Linked DNA regions of Homo sapiens. The protein of the gene in region 2 interacts with the protein of the main gene of each other region in a pairwise test. Each region holds a gene or a part of one and is shown on either strand. Other genes may lie near its edges. The genes, in order: EPN3, FAM168A, SMAP2, SS18L1 and PSORS1C1.

Region 1 (3,519 bases), on a different chromosome or scaffold from region 2:
TGTTCTGTGCCTGGCATGGTGCCTGGCTCAGAAAAGGCCTCCGGGAAATAGGTGTTGAATGCATCAAACTACAAAAATTAACAATATGAGAAAAGTGAGCTGAGGAGCTAGGAAGGATAGGTCTTAAGCTAGATCTCAGCAGAAACAGAGGCAGTGGCCGAGCAGAAGCAAGGCAAGCGGGCATTCCTGGAATCCTGTTAGCGTTCCCCCATGAGGCCATGCACTCTTAGGTGGGGCTTCCTGGGGTCATCTTGGTTCCCCATGCAGCAGCTCTGTGATCTCGGACAAGTCACTTAATATTACAGGGTCTCGCTCTGTTGCCCAGTGGCCTGACCATGGCTCACTGCAGCCTCCAACTACTGGCCTCAAGTGATCCTCTTGCCTTGGCCTCCTGAAGTCCTGGAATTACAGGCGTGAGCCACTGCACCGGGCCCATTTAATACTCTGAGCCCCACCTTTCCCATCTGTGGATGGAGGTAATGATAATAGCATCTTTGGGGTGTGGCTGTGAAGATAGATAGATGAGCATGCAAAGCTCCAAGTGCCTGCTGAATTGTAAGTGAAATAAGAACGTGTGCCGCTGAAGGCTGTCCCTGGAGGCAGGGACACTCTGGCCAGGCCTCATTTAGTTGGTCAGTGGCTGAGTGACCCATGAGGTAGGCCTCTGCCCCTGAGTTCCTGGCCCTCTCTTCCTCAGCCCCATGTGGAACCCAAGGATGCAGCTGCTCTGCTAACACGGCAGCCCATCCTTCAAGACTGTGACCTCGCCACAGTGGCCCTCAGCCCTCCACCTCCGGCGGGGGCGAGGGCCACCCACCTCCAAGTCTCCAGCCATGACGACCTCCGCACTCCGGCGCCAGGTGAAGAACATCGTGCACAACTACTCCGAGGCAGAAATCAAGGTGCGCGAGGCCACCAGCAATGACCCCTGGGGCCCCCCTAGTTCGCTCATGTCCGAGATCGCTGACCTGACCTTCAACACAGTGGCCTTCACCGAAGTCATGGGCATGCTGTGGCGGCGGCTCAATGACAGCGGCAAGAACTGGCGGCACGTGTACAAGGCTCTAACATTGCTGGACTACCTGCTCAAGACGGGCTCCGAGCGGGTGGCCCACCAGTGCCGCGAGAACCTCTACACCATCCAGACACTCAAGGACTTCCAGTACATCGACCGCGACGGCAAGGACCAGGGCGTCAACGTGCGCGAGAAGGTCAAGCAGGTGATGGCCCTGCTCAAGGATGAGGAGCGGCTGCGGCAGGAGCGAACCCACGCCCTCAAGACCAAGGAGCGCATGGCACTGGAGGGCATCGGCATTGGCAGTGGGCAGCTGGGCTTCAGCCGCCGCTACGGCGAGGACTACAGCCGCTCCCGGGGCTCCCCGTCCTCCTACAACTGTGAGTAAGCCCCGGTGTGTGGCTGGGATGGGGAGGTGGCCCGACTTCCATTCCTGGCTCTGCAATCCAAGCCATGGTTCATAATACCTACCTCCGAGGGGTGTTATGAAGATTCAGACATAAGGAATGTAACACGCAAGGCGCAACACCCGGCACATAGGAGGTGCTCAACAAGTTAGCTCAGATAATAACGTTGTTATAGATTCATTATCATTCGTTAGCTGCCTGATAGGATGGCGCGATAGTGGAAGCATGGGTTTGGAGTCAGATAGCATTCTATATTCTGCTTCCTCCAAGCTGTGTGACCTGGGCAACCAGTTCTCTGAACCTCAGTTTCCTCATCTGTACAGTGGGGATAAGCTCACCTACCTCCATTGTTTGATCTGAGAATGAAATGAGACCAGGTTCAGGAACGTCCTCTACCCTGCACCCAGACACATGGCATTCCCCTTCATCCCCCTACCTGAGGGCAGCGGCTAGACAGTCCCTGACTCTCCTGCCCCCAGTCATGGGGGCTTCCAGGATCTGAGGAATACTCAGAATGGCCCGCCTTCCATAAAGCCCTTGACAGTTTGCTGAGGGCTTTGAGGTTGTGACCTCGTTGGACTAGAACCTCCTATCCTTGCACCTCCCTTGCCCCCAAGCCAGGACAGGGTCCATCTGGAAGTCCAAGAGCTGGAGTCAGGGCACCTGGGTTCAAGTCCTGCTTCAGGAACCTGGTCAGGGGCCCTAAGTGCCGCCTGTGCATCTGCTAAGGAGGGACTGGAGCCGCCCCTCCATCCGGGATGGGTTGGGATGGGGAACTTACAGAGTGCCTGGCACACTGCTTGGCCCACGGGGGCCTCAACGGCCGTTGTTCCCCTCCTCTCAGTTCTCTTGAGCCTCAGCTTCCTGGCAGGCAGAGGGGTGTGGGAGCCGATGGGTAATCGTGTGGTCACAGAGACATGATGGTCATTGCAGCCTCCTCTTCGTCACCCCGCTATACCTCCGACCTGGAGCAGGCCCGGCCTCAGACGTCAGGGGAAGAGGAACTGCAGCTGCAGCTGGCCCTCGCCATGAGCCGTGAGGAGGCAGAGAAGGTGAGGCCATGCAGCCCCACTGCGGTGGGGAGGGGATGGGCTAGGGGGAGAGAGTGCCTGGGAGCCCCTTGGCCTTGACTCAGGCTCTGTCACCCAAAGCCCCAGTCCTGTGCCCAAGGACAGCACAAGACCCATTATCTCTGTCGGTTTGTCGCAGGCAGGGACTGCCTCCCTGCCTCCAGTCCTCTCCACTGGGCCTGGAAAGGGTGGCGAGTGTACAATTAGGGGCACATGCTATGTCTTGGGGTGCCTGCTACCACCTCATGGTGGAGTGGGTGAGTGTGCTCAGACATATTCCTAGGAGACACTGGGATATGCTTCCCACCCCCGCCCACCAGCTATCCTTTTGGGGAGACAAGGACAGGCCCCCGATATCATCATCTTTGCCATTACCTCTGTGGATCCAGGAAGACCAGGCAGGAAGCAGCTGGGCCTCACACAGGAGGGCCTGAGGAACTCTCAGAGGATTCAGAAGCGAAAGATCAGTCTTCCTGACCTTTAAACTGCATTTCAGATGCAGGCAGGGAGAAGGCCACGCCCACCCTGCTGACTGAGCGGCAAATGGCCCATGCACACTGAGGGTGGGCATTAGTGTCTCCATCCCCATGACCCAGGCAGGCCTATACTGCCCTTCTGGTCCCAAGGTGGGGGTACAGGGCCAAGTTTACCCCTCTCTTCCTCCGCAGCCTGTCCCCCCAGCCTCCCACAGGGACGAGGACCTGCAGCTGCAGCTGGCTCTGCGCCTGAGCCGGCAGGAGCACGAGAAGGTAGTGGGCCGAGCCCGCTGGGCTGCCGGTGCTGCTGCTGCTGCTGGTGGAGGTGCTTCAGGGCACTAACAGCCTCCTCCCGCTGTACCCGGTGGCCCTGCTGCTCCTAACCTCTCAGCTGCCTCCCACCCTGCACTCTCTCGACTCCAGCCTCTGGTGCACAGGTCCCCGGATTCCCGCCTGAGCTGCTCATGCTCCTAACTCTTTCTGTGCCTTCTGCAGGAGGTGAGGTCCTGGCAGGGTGATGGCTCCCCCATGGCCAATGGTGCAGGGGCCGT
Region 2 (3,519 bases):
TTTATATTAAAGCCCTAGCTTTTGAAAGCCCAAAATGAAAAGTGCCTGGGAGAAATGTGTTGGTGGATTTTTTTTTTCCACAGCCGTGGTTACCTGTGTAGTAGTAATGTGTTTTTGTATCTTTACCTCATTTGATCCTCCCGATATCTTGGTGAGAAGAGAGCAGATGGAGGTATTGATAGACAGAAGCCTTTGTGGAACGAATAGCCCATGAGTTTAGGAGTTGAGTCCCAGATTCAAATCCCAGTTCTACTACTTGAAAGCTGAGTGATTTCAGTCAAGTCATTAAAAACCTTTCAGATGGCCAGGCGTGGTGGCTCACGCCAGTAGTCCCAGCACTTTGGGAGGCCGAGGTGGGTGGATCACTTGAGGTCAGGAGTTTGAGATCAGCCTGGCCAACATGGCAAAACCCCATCTCTACTACAAATACAAAAATTAGCTGGTAGCACGTGCCTGTAATCCCAGCTACTTGGGAGGCTGAGGCAGGAGAATTGCTAGAACTGGGGAGGTGGGCAGTGAGCCACGATTGCGCCATTGCACTCCAGCATAGGCAACAAGAGCGAAACTCTGTCTCAAAACAAACAAACAAAAAACAAACAAAAAACCTTTCATATTTAGTGGTAATGGCTGCAAAACATTGTGAACATAGTTAATACCACTGAATTGTACACTTAACTTTGGTTAAAAAGGTAAAAATACACACACAAAAAAACCTCAAAAACCAAAAAAACTGGCCAGGCATAGTGGCTCACGCCCATAATCCCAGACTTTGGGAGGCTGAGCTGGGAGTATTGCTTGAGCCTAGGAGTTCGAGACCAGTGAGGGCAACATAGGGAGACCCGTCTCCACAAAAAAAAAAAAAAATTTGCTGGGTGTGGTAGCGTATACCTGTAATCCCAGATACTCAGGAGGGAGGTGGGAGGATTGCTTGAGCCAGGGAGGTCAAGGCTGCAGTGAGCCATGATCGTGCTTCCCTGCACTGCAGTCTGGGTTACAGAATGAGACCCTGTCACACAATCAAACTTTCATACTTCACAAGGCTGTCAAGGGGAACAAACCAGTTCATGTCCTGAAAACACTGTACATATATGAAATATCTGTTCACTATTTATTTATTTAATGAATGTCTGCTAAGTGCCAGGGGAAATAAAAATGAACAGAAAGCAGTTGTCAAGGAGCTTTCAGTGTCATGGGAAAGATAGACAAATACGGTGAGAAAAGTGAGGCAAAATGAATGCTATGGTTAAATGTGGGTTTTGAAGTCTGTCTACCACTTACTATTAGCTGTGTGACGTTGGGCACAATGGGCTCATCTGTAAAGTGCGAATAATAGAATTAACATCATAGGATTGTTTTGAGGATTAAATAAGATAATCAATGGAAAGCATTTCACACAATATGTTTTATAGTACACATTAAAAAAATTAGTTGTTGCCTTTATTGTTAGAAAGATAGGCAGAGGCTAGAATGGTGAATAGCCTTGTGTGCCCTACCAATGAGTTCTTAGTATTGTGGTATTTATTAATGAGGTATGATTTTGTTTTATGATCTCATGCATATTTGCATGTTTACAGTCTAGGAACTTTAAACAGTTCTTTAAATGCCAAAGTCCTAAACAGATGTTAGCTGTTAGCTTCCTCATTAATAAAATAAGAAGAAAAATTATGCTCTGAGAGGTTAAATGACTTGTTTAAGGTTACACAGTCAGTGGAAAAGTCTGGGTTACAGCCCCCAAATTCTAATTTGTCATCCCCATTTATATCCTTTTTTTAAATTGTAAAATATGTCATATGTATAAAAGTATATTTAACATAAACCCACAACTTAAAGAATAACAAATTGAAGGCTTTTCTACTTGCTACCCAGCTTAACAAAAAGGAGATTTCTAGTACCTTTAAAGCCTCTTGTGAGGTCCTACTTGATTGAATCTCCCATCTTCTCTCTCCCTCAGAGATAAACAGTTTCCTAAATTTTATGTGAATCATTTCTTTGCTTTTCTTTATACTTTTACCAAATATGTGCATATCCCTAAACAGTATATTTTTTACCTTTGCAACTTTTTATAAATAGAATTATAGGATAAATATTCTTCTGACTTGCTTTATTCTTATTCTTATTTTTTAACTTTTAAAAAAGCTTTATTTCTTCCACCATTAAATAATGTGTGCTCATGATAAAAACTAGAAATTACAAAAAGTAAAAAGAAGCATAAGTATTGTTTTTAGTCCTATTACCCAGTAACACTTTTTTTTTTTTTTGGTAGAGACAGGGTCTCGCTATGTTGTCCTGGTCAAGTGATCCTCCTTCCTCGGCCTCCCAAAGTGCTTACAAATGCAGGCATGTGGCACCATGCCTGGCTGGCAAATGCTTTTTGTAGAAAATATTTTGTGCCACATATGGCCTCTGTTGTTCTTTCTCCTCCCTTCCACTCCCCTTCCTTTTTGTCTCCCCATCTCCCTCCCCGTTCTTCTCCTTCCTGAAGCCCCTCCTCTTGCTTCTCCCCATTCCTTCTTCTCCCTCCCCTTCTCTTTCTCCTCCTTTTATGTGGTTTTAAGAATGTAAAACTCACAGGCCATACAAAAATAGGCCATGGGCGGGCCATAGCTGGCCGACCCCTGGTACGTTAACAGAAATCAACTCAAAGTTGTAAAATATTGAAGAGGAAAGAGACTAAACCAAGTTCATATTTCTTTCTCTATTTTGTTAAATTTACTTCCTTGGACAGTTATGCATATCTTTAGTATTGAAAACAATGGTATAGAATTTTTTTGTCAAATTATGTTTATCTAAAAGTTTAACATTTTATTAAATGAGCCATTATTTTCTGTATGAAGACACTCTGAGAAAACCTCAGTTTATAAAGTTCCAATACACCTCCTCCTCCTGCCAGTTAGGCAGGTGTCTGGGTCCTTTCAGAATATGCCTATTTTATGATGATATAGGTTGTGCTTTTTCTTAGATATAGACATTTTGAAGGAACCCTGAGATGATATATTTTTCACAGTAAACTTCAATCCTTGGCTACTTGAGATTATGATCTTGATTTGCCTTCTGATCATGTCGCTCAAGCTTGACGATTTCTGCTAACTTGTATTTCTTTTCTAGCCTCTGTTTTATAATTTTTCTAAGTATTTTAGTTTTCTAATGTGTCTTCCTCTATCTTTTATTTTGAGTTGATAGCAAATGTCTCTATCAGTAGATAACAGCTATGCTATTTATACTTATGCAAATATAATGGCGCCATTTTATATATAGTTCTTAGGTTGGTCATGTGGCATTATTTTCATTTTAAGGATGAAGAAATTAAGACTCTAAGAGGGTAGCTGGGTGCAGTGGCTCACACCTGTAATCCCAGGATTTTGGGAGGCCAAGGTGGGAAGATCGCTTGAGCCCAGGAGTTCAAGACCAATCTGATCAACATAGTGAGATCCAGTCTCTACAAAAAACAAAAATATTATCTGGATGTGGTGGCGTGCACCTCTGTTCATAGCTATTTTGGAGGCTGAGGTGGGAGGATCA
Region 3 (3,519 bases), on a different chromosome or scaffold from region 2:
TTTATCCCTCACAAGTGTTAAGGAGTCTACTTAAAAGCCTAATGGGAAACACATTTATTGGAATTGATTAATAGTATAAACTCAGAATGATAACACTGATCATTGCCTGCCAAGTAGACATTTTAATTGGTAGCTGTGTATCTAAGAGTTTCAAATGAGATCTTGATTTATTACTGAATTGAATGTATCTTGGTACACAAATATTTCAGTAAAAGGAACCTATGGAGTGGGGGAAAGACAGCTTGGGGCAAATGATTGGGAAATCCTAGTAAGGTAGAGGGAATCATGAATTGGAAATCAGAATACACAAGTTTAAATGTTGGTTCTGACACTCTCTAGGTTGGTTCTTCAATTGTACAGTAGTGGAATTGGGTGAGAAGTTTTTCAGTTCTTTCTTGATCTGACGTTCCATGTTTCTACATTCTCTTTGGTCACAGTGCATGCAAGAGATGGGAAATGGAAAGGCAAACCGACTTTATGAAGCCTATCTTCCTGAGACCTTTCGGCGACCTCAGATAGACCCGTATCTTTTCTGGAGCAACTTAGAAGGCTGAGTGGTATTTTGATGCTTGGGGAGAGTCAGACAAGACTCCAGTCCTGTAATGTGACTGGGTCATCTCTATGTGGATTAGTCAGTGTCCTTGCTTGTCCTCTGTCCTGCAATCAAGGTGCACAAAAAGCACATGTATTTGTGAATGTCGGAATTGTCATACGGTGTCACTTGAAGAAGACTCACTCTGGAATTAAGACTGCAGTGATTTCACTGTGAATTCTTCTATAAAGTTACATCTCCACTAGTTTATTTTGGATCTCTGAAACTATTGTTTGATTAAAAAGAGTAGTTCATTGTGCTCTGTTAACCCTGGCAGTCAGCAAAATTGCCATTCATTTTTATCATCTTTTTATGTCTTGGGTGAAAGAATTAACTGTTGTTTACCAGTTTGTCAATAACCAATAACTTTCTTCCACCATCTGTTCAACAGAGCATAGCACCTAGGACACAAAACCAAATCCCTTAAAGGCAGTGCTTCTCAAAATGTAGTTTGTAGATCATCTTGTTAAGGTTCTTTTTTTTTTAATGGGTTCAGGTGGAACCTGTTAAATGCAGATTTGGGGCCTTGCAGAAGACCCACTGGTCAGAATTTGGCAGTGGGGCACAAGAGTTTATGTTTTTAAGGGGCACTTACGTGCCTTTGTTTGAGGCCTATTGACCTAAGTGCTTTAAAATAGACATTTGACTGCTTTACCTATATTCTAGAACAGCCACATACAGCCTCTAATGTCAGTTTGAAGGTTAATTCCACTTGCTGCTATCATCACGCTGAAGGGAAAGCATAGGAAGTAATGATTCCCTGCTTTAACTGTGAAAGAGGCATTTTAAGGTTTTGGTCAGAGAAATTGCATATGAAGAGGCAGGAGCCATGTGGGGAAACCAGGCAAGAGGGAAGGAGGAGAACAATGCTCCGTGGAACACAATTGATCTTTTATCTTCTTGCTGTTTGAGAGGCTTGTTGGATTCATCCTTAATAAGCTTTTTGCAGAGCTGTTGAAGGATTTATTCGAGACAAATATGAGAAGAAGAAATACATGGACCGAAGTCTGGACATCAATGCCTTTAGGGTTGGTTATACATCTTTCAAGTTTTGTCCACAATAAGTAATGTGCTTATTAAATCAGGCCAGAGAACACGTTGAAGAACTGCTACCAAAACACTCCAAAACCATCTTTTAAAAAATGCAAAAGTAGACCAGGTGTGGTGGCTCATCCCCTAATCCCATCACTTTGGGAGGCTGAGGTGGGAGGATCACTTGAACCTAGAAGTTTAAGACCAGCCTGGGCAACAAAGAAAGACCCCCATCTCTACAAAAAATTTAAAAATTAGCCAGGCATGGTGGTATACATGCCTGTAATAACCAGCTACTTGGGAGGCTGAGGTCGGAGGATTACGTGAGCCAGGGAGGTTGAGGCTGCAGTGAGCTGTGATTGCACCACTTCATTCCAGTCTAGGCAACGGAGTTTGACCCTGTCTCAATATAAATTTTTAAGCAAAAGTAAAAAGTGCCAGTTACTGAGTCAAGACCATGAGGCAGAAACAAACTTCTGCCTATCGGTGAATTCTTGCCTTAATCTGTAGTTAGAAGGTGTTAGTGATGATTCCCAGTTTTGAATTATTTCTTGGGATGGACATGTTGCATATACTAGATCAAATAAAACAGTATATGTGTATATGTACTACAGCTATATCTATCTACATAGATATATACACACATATATACTTTTTTCCTGTAAATGAAATCAACAAAAGTAGGTGTAATTAAATCACCAGAGTTTCCTTCAGTTTGACCAATGTATATTTCCAGCATTACCTGCTGATAACCAGTGTGTTGGACTGATTGCCAATGGGACCCTTGTTTCTGAGAAGGGTTTCAGAGGGAGACTGGCTACCAGTTGCCAAGAACACATTCCATCCTAGGCATGTTTAGAATCTGCAATACAGTATATGATAACTAGGACAAATATAACACACAGGGGGACAGACAGCATGATTTCTGAAAGAGGAAAATATGCCTAACTAATGACAGCTAATGGAGAACCAATAGATATGACTATTTATACCTTTAAATAACCTTTGACAAGATTCTACAGAAAATTCTCTTAGGAATAATTGGCTATTTATCTAGTCACAGAAGTATTGAGAGTAAGGGATTCTCCACTTCCAGCGCAGGTCCTACCTATCTATCATCTATTCTAGTTATGTAATAATGATATAATAGCCAGTGAAATCACTGTTTGCACTGAGCTCCAAGCCCTTCTGGGTAATTAAAAGTTAAGCTAATTGGAATCCACTTCAGGCTGATCTTATGAAGCTGTGTGAAAGGGGCATTAACTGGTAGGTGAATTTCAACACAGGCAAGTAAGTGTAATACATATAGTTAGGTAAAAATGATTCCTTCTCAACTGTGTATGAAGGACTCTTACCTTGCAGTTATCCAGAAAAGGGACTTGTCAATATCATATCTGTGCCAAGAAAGAACCCAGTGTGCAGCTACAGCTTGCATGGCATCATCAAAAACAGTTTAGAACCCAAGCATACACATTTCGTTTTATTTGTAGAAAACTGTGGTCTGTCTGCCCAGCTCTGTTCATTGTGCCTAAAGATATGAACTCAGATGAGGTCAGAAAAGGGTATCTGAGATAATTCAGATGACGAAGGAGTAGAGTTGCTATTTGTACACAGCTATTGTGGAAACAGCAGCTCTGCCCTCAGGGTATTCATGATTTCATTGCTGGTATACTGTACCCATGAAAGCAAGCCCGGTTACCGGATGTTTCTCTTAGGAAGGAAATAACCTCCCATTTACCAAAAAGCTATTTCAGAATTTGTTATTTAATGTACTTAGATTTTTTTCATATTTTGTGAAGATTTTTATGCCAATAATTAGTATTTGCTAAGTGAAGACGTTTAATATCAAATGAAAAGAAACTGGCTTTGTTAAAAACTATTCTTTTTATAATGGA
Region 4 (3,519 bases), on a different chromosome or scaffold from region 2:
CCTGACCCCGCCCAGGAACGCAGAGCAGCTGCAGGGGCAAGGAGGGCAAGGAGGGCAAGGAGGGTGTGGCCACTGCAGTGTGTCCTCAGTCATTCCAGCTCAGGCCTGGGCTACAGGCAGAGTGGCCAGACGCCCTGCAGGAGCAAGGTAGGGGATGGGGTGAGCTGGGCTGGCAGTGGTGCCTGGCCTCTGCAGAGAGAAGCTGTGGCACACACCGCTGCACTGGCCTCCACGCGGCCTTGCCTCTACTTCCTGAAAGGCTGTGGGAGTTGGAGGCGGATAATTGTAGCTCCTAGCTGTAGATAGGTGGAAATGTTCAAGAAGGCGCCTCCCAGCTTCACAGAGAATGCCCTGAAGGTGACGGCTCCACCTGCAGCACCTCTCCTCCTGCACCTTCTCATCTCTGCAGAGTATTTTACCGTCGTCACCTTTCAGTCTTTGCATAGTCCCAGGGCTTGTGGAAGGGATACTGAAAGTGGTCTTGGCTGAAAACAGCGGTTCACACCTGTCATTCCGGCACTTTGGGAGGCTGAGGCAGGAGGATCGCTTCAGCCCAGGAGGTTGAAGCTGCATTGAGCCATGATCGCACCACCACACTCCAGCCTTGGTGACAGAGCAGGATCCTGTCTCTAAATAAAGTAAAAATAACAATAAAATAAAGTGGTCTTAAAGGCTGGATTGATCCCTGGGAGGCATCCAGGCAGGGAGCTGGCCTCAGCCAGCAAGGGGCAGGTGCACAGACAGGTGGGCAGGTGGCAGCAGGGCAAGCCACCCTGGCCACGTGATGGTCACATGCAGCGAAGGCCTCGGTAAGGGTTGGACACCCCTGCCTGCGTCCTCCCAGGAGCTAGCGGTGGCGGGGAGAAGGCAGTCGGGTCACTAGCATGGCTGTGTGGCAGGCACTGAAAGCGCTGATCCTCTGCATAAATCCCCAGGTAGCTTCACAGTCGCCCCGAGAAGGAGGCATTGATGTCTGCATTTCAGTGGGGAGGCCGAGGCTCAGGAGGTTGGGGCATGGTTTTGGGGAACACGGGTCCTGCCGGCTCTTGTTGCCTCCCTGGCCAGACAACATCTCCCCAGCCTGGGTCTCAGTTGCCTCCTCCGGGACCTGTGCAGTGCACAGCCTCCGCTGACTGTCGCCGTCTCCGTTTCGCACAGGCCATGGCGATTACGCCTACCAGCAGTCATCCTACACGGAGCAGAGCTACGACCGGTCCTTCGAGGAGTCCACGCAGCACTACTATGAGGGGGGTAAGGAGCACGGCTGCGTGCTGGGCTCGAGCGTAAGCGCCACACGCAGCAGAGTTAAGACGCTGCACCCTTAGGAGCACGCGGTGCCTGCCTTCAGTGAGTCCCTTAAATCACAGCACAGCGCGTGGGAGGAGAGACAGTGTGTTCTGGAAGCTGGAAATTCAGGCTGTGTCGGGAGCCCCGCTTGCCTTATGGGTGTGTTCGTGAGACAGGAAAGGATTCAGCCGGCCATGCTGGGGTTGGGGGCACAGACTTGGTTATTGGGTCCAGCCAGGGAGCGTGGGGCCTGCGACAGGAAGGATTCAGCCGGCCATGCTGGGGTTGGGGACACAGACTCTGTTATTGGGTCTGGCCAGGGATCGTGGGGCCTGCGAGCCACTCTCAGAGCTTCCTCAGCTGGAGGCCAGCAGTGGCTGCGCTGGGTGTGGCCTCGCGTTTCTTCAGACACCTGCAGGCCAGGAAACGCACATCTGTGGCTGGGGGCTTGCCGCCCTTCATGGCGGTCCTGGGCAGTGCTGCGCTGGGGGCTGCGTGTCGGGTGGACTTGCCCCTTTCTGTGGTGTCTGTGCCCCCACCCTGGCTGCCCTGAAACCCCAACAGAACATCCCAGAATGTGGAGTTGGGAAGAGGTACACACAGCCCGTTCCAGTCCCACCCCGGGATAAAGATGGCCCCCAGAGAAGAGCTGATGATCGCCTGCGGGATTGCGCAACCTCGTCCGGGAGGGAAGGCGGGCCTGCAGTCCCTGGGGAGAGGGGCCTCGTGTCTGCTGACGCTGACCGGCAGGCAGCAGTGGCTGAGGCCTTCCCACTGCAGGGCTGCAATTTATCAAGAGGTAACAGTGTTGGTGAGGCTTCACCAGGTACACAAAGCAGGCAGGCACTAAACGGCTACAGATTTCCTTGTTTGGGTTACTTCTTAAAGAATTGGATGTGTAAAGGTTTTGCTTCTGAGCTTACACATCTCAGCCTGCTGTGAAGAAATAAAGCACGCAAGTGTAGGCACATATAGAAACATCACGGTGTGCGCTACGAATGCCTGCAACGTTGAAATGTCAGTTACACCTTTGTAAACCTGGGGGAAACAAAAAGTACATGAATACATAATGAAAGTTTAAAAGAAGAAAGAGCCTAGGTGTTGTGGCTCACGCCTATAATCCCAGCACTTTAGGAAGCTGAGGTGGGTGGATCACCTGAGGTCAGGAGTTTGAGACCAGCCTGGCCAACACGGTGAAACCCCGTCTCTACTAAAAATACAAAAATTAGTTGGACGTGGTGGCATGTGCCTGTAATCTGAGCTACTCAAGAGGCTGAGGCAGGAGAATTGCTTGAACCCGGGAGGTGTAGGTTGCAGTGAGCTGAGATCATGCCATTGCACTCCAGCCTGGGCAACAAGAGTGAAACTTTGTCTCAAAAAAAATAAAAAGAAATAAAAAAAAGAAATGGCCAGGCATGGTGGCTTACGCCTGTAATCCCAGCACTTTGGGAGGCCAGTGGAGGAGGATTGCTTGAGCTCAGGAGTTTGTTTGTTTTTTTTTTTTTTTTTTTTTGAGACGGAGTCTCACTCTGTCGCCGAGGCTGGAGTGCAGTGGTATGATCTTGGCTCACTGCCACCTCCGCCTCCCAGGTTCAAGCAATTCTCCTGCCTCAGCCTCTTGAGTAGCTCGGATTACAGGCCCCGCCACCACACCCAGCTAATTTTTGTATTTTCAGTAGAGATGGGGTTTCATCATGTTGGTCAGTCTGGTCTCGAACCCCTGACCTCATGATCCACCTGCCTCAGCCTCCCAAAGTGCTGGGATTACAGGCGTGAGCCACCGCGCCCGGCCGAGCTCAGGAGTTTGAGGCCAGCATGGGCAACATGGCAAAACCCTTTCTCTCCCGAAAAAAAAAAAAAAAATGCCGGGCGTGGTGGCGGGTACCTGTAATCCCAGCTACTCAGGAGGCTGAGGTGGGAGAATCGCTTGAACCCAGAGGCAGAGGTTGCAGTGAGTTGAGATTGCACTACAGCACTCCAGCCTGGGTGACCGAGCCAGACCCTGTCTCAAAACAAAAGCCACCCTGTGGCCAGCACCCAGAGGCTATCTTCTGGCATATTGGCTGCAGTGGTGCCTCCGTAAGCCCTGGGAGTCAGCAGGATCTCTGCCATCATGGGCCTGGCCCTGTCCCTTCCAGCTGGAGCACAGGGTTCAGCCTTGTCCATGGCGAGGTGTCCACATGCGTCTGCCCAAGGCTGCCACACTTTGTCCCAAAAACAAACGCAGGATGT
Region 5 (3,519 bases), on a different chromosome or scaffold from region 2:
ACGAGAGCTTAAGCTGTAGAGCATTTACCAACAGTGCCCTATGGCACATGCGCAGTAGAAAGTAGTTGCAATAGTGTGTAGCAAATACTTTGCATCCTAGGTTGGATTCCCCAGAAGCAGGCCCTGAGACAAAGATTCAAGTAAAAGAGATTTATTTAAAACTAATGAGAAGTTGGGCAGGGTGGCTCACGCCTATAATCCCAACACTTTGAGAGGCGGAGGCAGGAGGGTTTCTTGAGCTCAGGAGTTTGAGACCAGGTTGGGCAATATAGTAAGACCCAATCTCTACAAAAAAAATTAGCCAGACGTGGTGGCATGCGCCTGTGATCCAGCTACTTGGGAGGCTTAGGTGGGAGGATCGCTTGGGTCCAGGCTTCAGTGAGCTGTGATCGTGCCACTGTACTCCAGCCTGGGCAACAGAGTGAGAACTGTCTCAAAAATAAATAGGCCAGGCACAGTGGCTCATGCCTGTAATCTCGACACTTTGGGAGGCCAAGGCGGGCAGATCACCTGAGGTCAGGAGTTTGAGACCAGCCTGGCCAACATGGTGAAACCCTGTTTCTACTAAAAATACAAAAATTAGCTGGGCATAGTGGCGCATGCCTGTAATCCCAGCTACTCAGGAAGCAGAGGCAGGAGAATCGCTTGAACTCAGGAGGCGGAGATTGCAGTGGGCTGAGATCACACCACTGCATTCCAGTCTGGGCAACGAGAGGGAGACTCCGTCTCAAAAATTGAATAAATAAATAAATAAATAAATAAAAGTAATGAGGGGACTGGGCATGATGGCTCACACCTGTAATCCCAGTGCTTTGGGAGGCCAAGGCAGGAAGATTGCTTGAGTCCAGGAGTTCCAGACCAGCCTGGGCAACATGGCAAGACATCATTTCTGCAAGAAATTAAAAAATTAGCCCAGTGAGTGGAGTGCATCTATAGTACCAGCTACTCAGAAGGCTGAGGCAGGAGGACCACTTGAGCCCAGGAGGTTGAGACTGCAATGAGTTATGATTGTGCCACTGCACTTTAGCCTGGGTGACAGAGTGAGACCCTGTCTTAAAAAAAAAAAAAAGTAATGAGGGTGGGGAGGAGTGGAAAGGGAGTGGGAAAGTGGGACCCAAGCACATGAGTGGAACCAAGCTAAGTCTCATGGAGGGCTGGGGTACTGACACCTTCATATTTGTCCACCGTTGGTTAAGGTCTGGGGGCGGGCTGGGGGAGTGGGAGGGTGGTGGCATGTGAGGATGTGGGAGAGAAAAATTTCCAAGTGCTTCCAGCTCTCTGCCCCTGGAAAAGGTCCCGGCAGAGGCATAGGCGGGGCTGTTGGGAGTGATTTAGCACTCTGGGAGTCCGTAGGCACAAAAATGGTAAAGGGGTTCAAGAAGAAATGCGTAGAACACAGTCCCTGCCCCACAAGGTTCATGGCCTGGGAAGGGAAGACAGACATGAATAAATCATTGCCATAGGGTGACTGGGGTGAAGGGCGTTGGGGGTCGGGTGGGGTGCGGGAAGGAGTGGTGTAGGCAGAGGCATCCCTGAGGAGAAATGCAGCTGGTTTGGGAGAGGACGGCCATTCCAGACATAGGGAACAGCACACACGAAGGCTGATGCACATACGCGCAAGGGCTGGTCCCTAGAGCTGGTGGTTCTGGCCACGAGAGCTCATCACCTGGGGGCAGCTTTTGTACCTGCACCCTGTATGAGGCTCCGGGTCTGCCCTTCCTGGTCCATCCTCCAGACACACTGCCTGTTCTTCTCTCAGGTCCCGCTCCGGGCCCTCCTCCCAGAAGCCTCCCCTGACTAGTCCAGCTCACCGTGACTCTTCTGAACTCACGGCGTTTACTGCCAAGGCTATTACGTTGGCGCTCGCTCATGTCATTATTAGGAAATATGCATTTTTACTGTCTTTGATGTTATTTAAACTTGCCTGTAAATTCTGTCTCTCTCAATTTTAAGTTCTGAGTAGAAACTACATATTTTTATTATTTATATTCTTATATTCTCCCATGGCACCCGGCATTCGTGGACACATTGAGGAAGTAAGATAATGAATGAATGAATGGGTGAATCCAGTCCAGCTTGGGGCCTATTTAATTCTACTAGGCTCAACCTACAATTCTTATGTGTTCTCAGATTATTCCTAAACCCTAAGCTTAGTTTTGTTTCATTCGGACCACATGTAGTTTTTTTTTGTTTTTTGTTTTCTGAGATGGGGTCTTGCTCTGTCGCCCAGGCTGCAGTGCAGTGGCACGATCTTGGCTCACCGCAACCTCTGCCTCCCAGGTTCAATGGATTCTCCTGCCTCAGCCTCCTGAGAAGCTGGGATTACAGGCGCCCGCCACCATGCCCAGCTAATTTTTTTGTATTTTTAGTAGAGACAGGGATTCACCATGTTGGTGAGGCTGGTCTCGAACTCCTGACCTCAGGTAATCCACCCGCCTCAGCCTCCCAAAGTGCTAGGATTACAGGTGTGAGCCACCACGCCTGATCTCATGTGTAGTTTTTTGGTTTTTTATTTGTTTGTTTTTTTGAGATGGAGTCTCGCTCTGTCGCCCAGGCTGGAGTGCAGTGGCACGATCTCGGCTCACTGCAAGCTCCACCTCCCAGGTTCACGCCATTCTCCTGTCTCAGCCTCCCGAGTAGCTGGGACTACAGGCGCCGGCCACCATGCCCGGCTAATTTTTTTTGTATTTTTTAGTAGAGACTGGGTTTCACCATGTTAGCCAGGATGGTCTCGATCTCCTGACCTCGTGATTCGCCCGCCTTGGCCTCCCGAAGTGCTGGGATTACAGGCGTGAGCCACCGCGCCTGGCCTCTCATATGTAGTTTTTAATGAGAGTTACCACATAAGCAAACTGGGTTCTAAGTGGTGAAATTTAAGGTTATGCAACCTCAGTTTCTTTTAACCCCTCTTCATCCCTAACCCTGGTCGGATACTTGATTGACAGTAGACCATTGGGATCTCTGAGCTCCTGTCCTTCTAACCTGATTGCCTCTTTAAAGGATTTTGAAAAACTATGTCCCTTGCACATTTGTATTGTTTTGAGACACGGTCTCACTCTGTTGCCCAGACTGGAGTGCAGTGGTGCCATCTTGGCTCACTATAGCCTCAACCTCCCAGGGTCAAGCAATCTTCCCACCTCAGCCTCCTGAGTAGCTGGGACTACAGGTGCGGGCCACCACATCTGGCTAATTTCTTAAATTTTCTGTAGAAACAGTTTTGCCATGTTGCCTAGGCTGGTCTCAAACTCCTGGCCACAAGCAATCCACCCGATTCGGCCTCCCGAAGTGCTGGTATTACAGGCATGAGCCACCTTGCCCAGCCCCTTGCACATTTTTAAGTCAACATTTAACATTTGTAATAATTTAATAGCATTCCAAAGGGTATGCTTTTCAAGGAATTGCAAATACATGTTAAAAATCACATCACTATTTATGTATTTATTTATTTATTTATTATTTTTGAGATGGAGTCTCACTCTGTCTCCCAGGCTGGAGTGCAGTGGTGCGATCTCGGCTCAC

Evidence for each region.
Region 1: the proteins of FAM168A (region 2) and EPN3 interact in a two-hybrid assay, tested with the Homo sapiens proteins (one large-scale study listed by BioGRID).
Region 3: the proteins of FAM168A (region 2) and SMAP2 interact in a two-hybrid assay, tested with the Homo sapiens proteins (one large-scale study listed by BioGRID and IntAct).
Region 4: the proteins of FAM168A (region 2) and SS18L1 interact in binary tests that used the Homo sapiens proteins (3 or more experiments, as listed by UniProt).
Region 5: the proteins of FAM168A (region 2) and PSORS1C1 interact in a two-hybrid assay, tested with the Homo sapiens proteins (one large-scale study listed by BioGRID and IntAct).

Annotation. Positions count from the first base shown.
Region 1 is NC_000017.11:50,535,724-50,539,242, forward strand, and holds part of EPN3 (epsin-3), read left to right. Parts: intron 1-697; 5' UTR 698-833; coding exon 834-1,395; intron 1,396-1,570; exon of another isoform or gene 1,571-1,778; intron 1,779-2,203; exon of another isoform or gene 2,204-2,355; coding exon 2,356-2,474; intron 2,475-2,867; exon of another isoform or gene 2,868-3,031; intron 3,032-3,160; coding exon 3,161-3,241; intron 3,242-3,463; coding exon 3,464-3,519.
Region 2 is NC_000011.10:73,591,612-73,595,130, reverse strand, and holds part of FAM168A (protein FAM168A), read left to right. Parts: intron 1-3,519.
Region 3 is NC_000001.11:40,408,216-40,411,734, forward strand, and holds part of SMAP2 (stromal membrane-associated protein 2), read left to right. Parts: intron 1-437; coding exon 438-523; intron 524-1,541; coding exon 1,542-1,620; intron 1,621-3,519.
Region 4 is NC_000020.11:62,164,264-62,167,782, forward strand, and holds part of SS18L1 (calcium-responsive transactivator), read left to right. Parts: intron 1-1,158; coding exon 1,159-1,251; intron 1,252-3,519. UniProt on the Homo sapiens protein: Transcriptional activator which is required for calcium-dependent dendritic growth and branching in cortical neurons. Recruits CREB-binding protein (CREBBP) to nuclear bodies.
Region 5 is NC_000006.12:31,131,794-31,135,312, forward strand, and holds part of PSORS1C1 (psoriasis susceptibility 1 candidate gene 1 protein), read left to right. Parts: intron 1-3,519.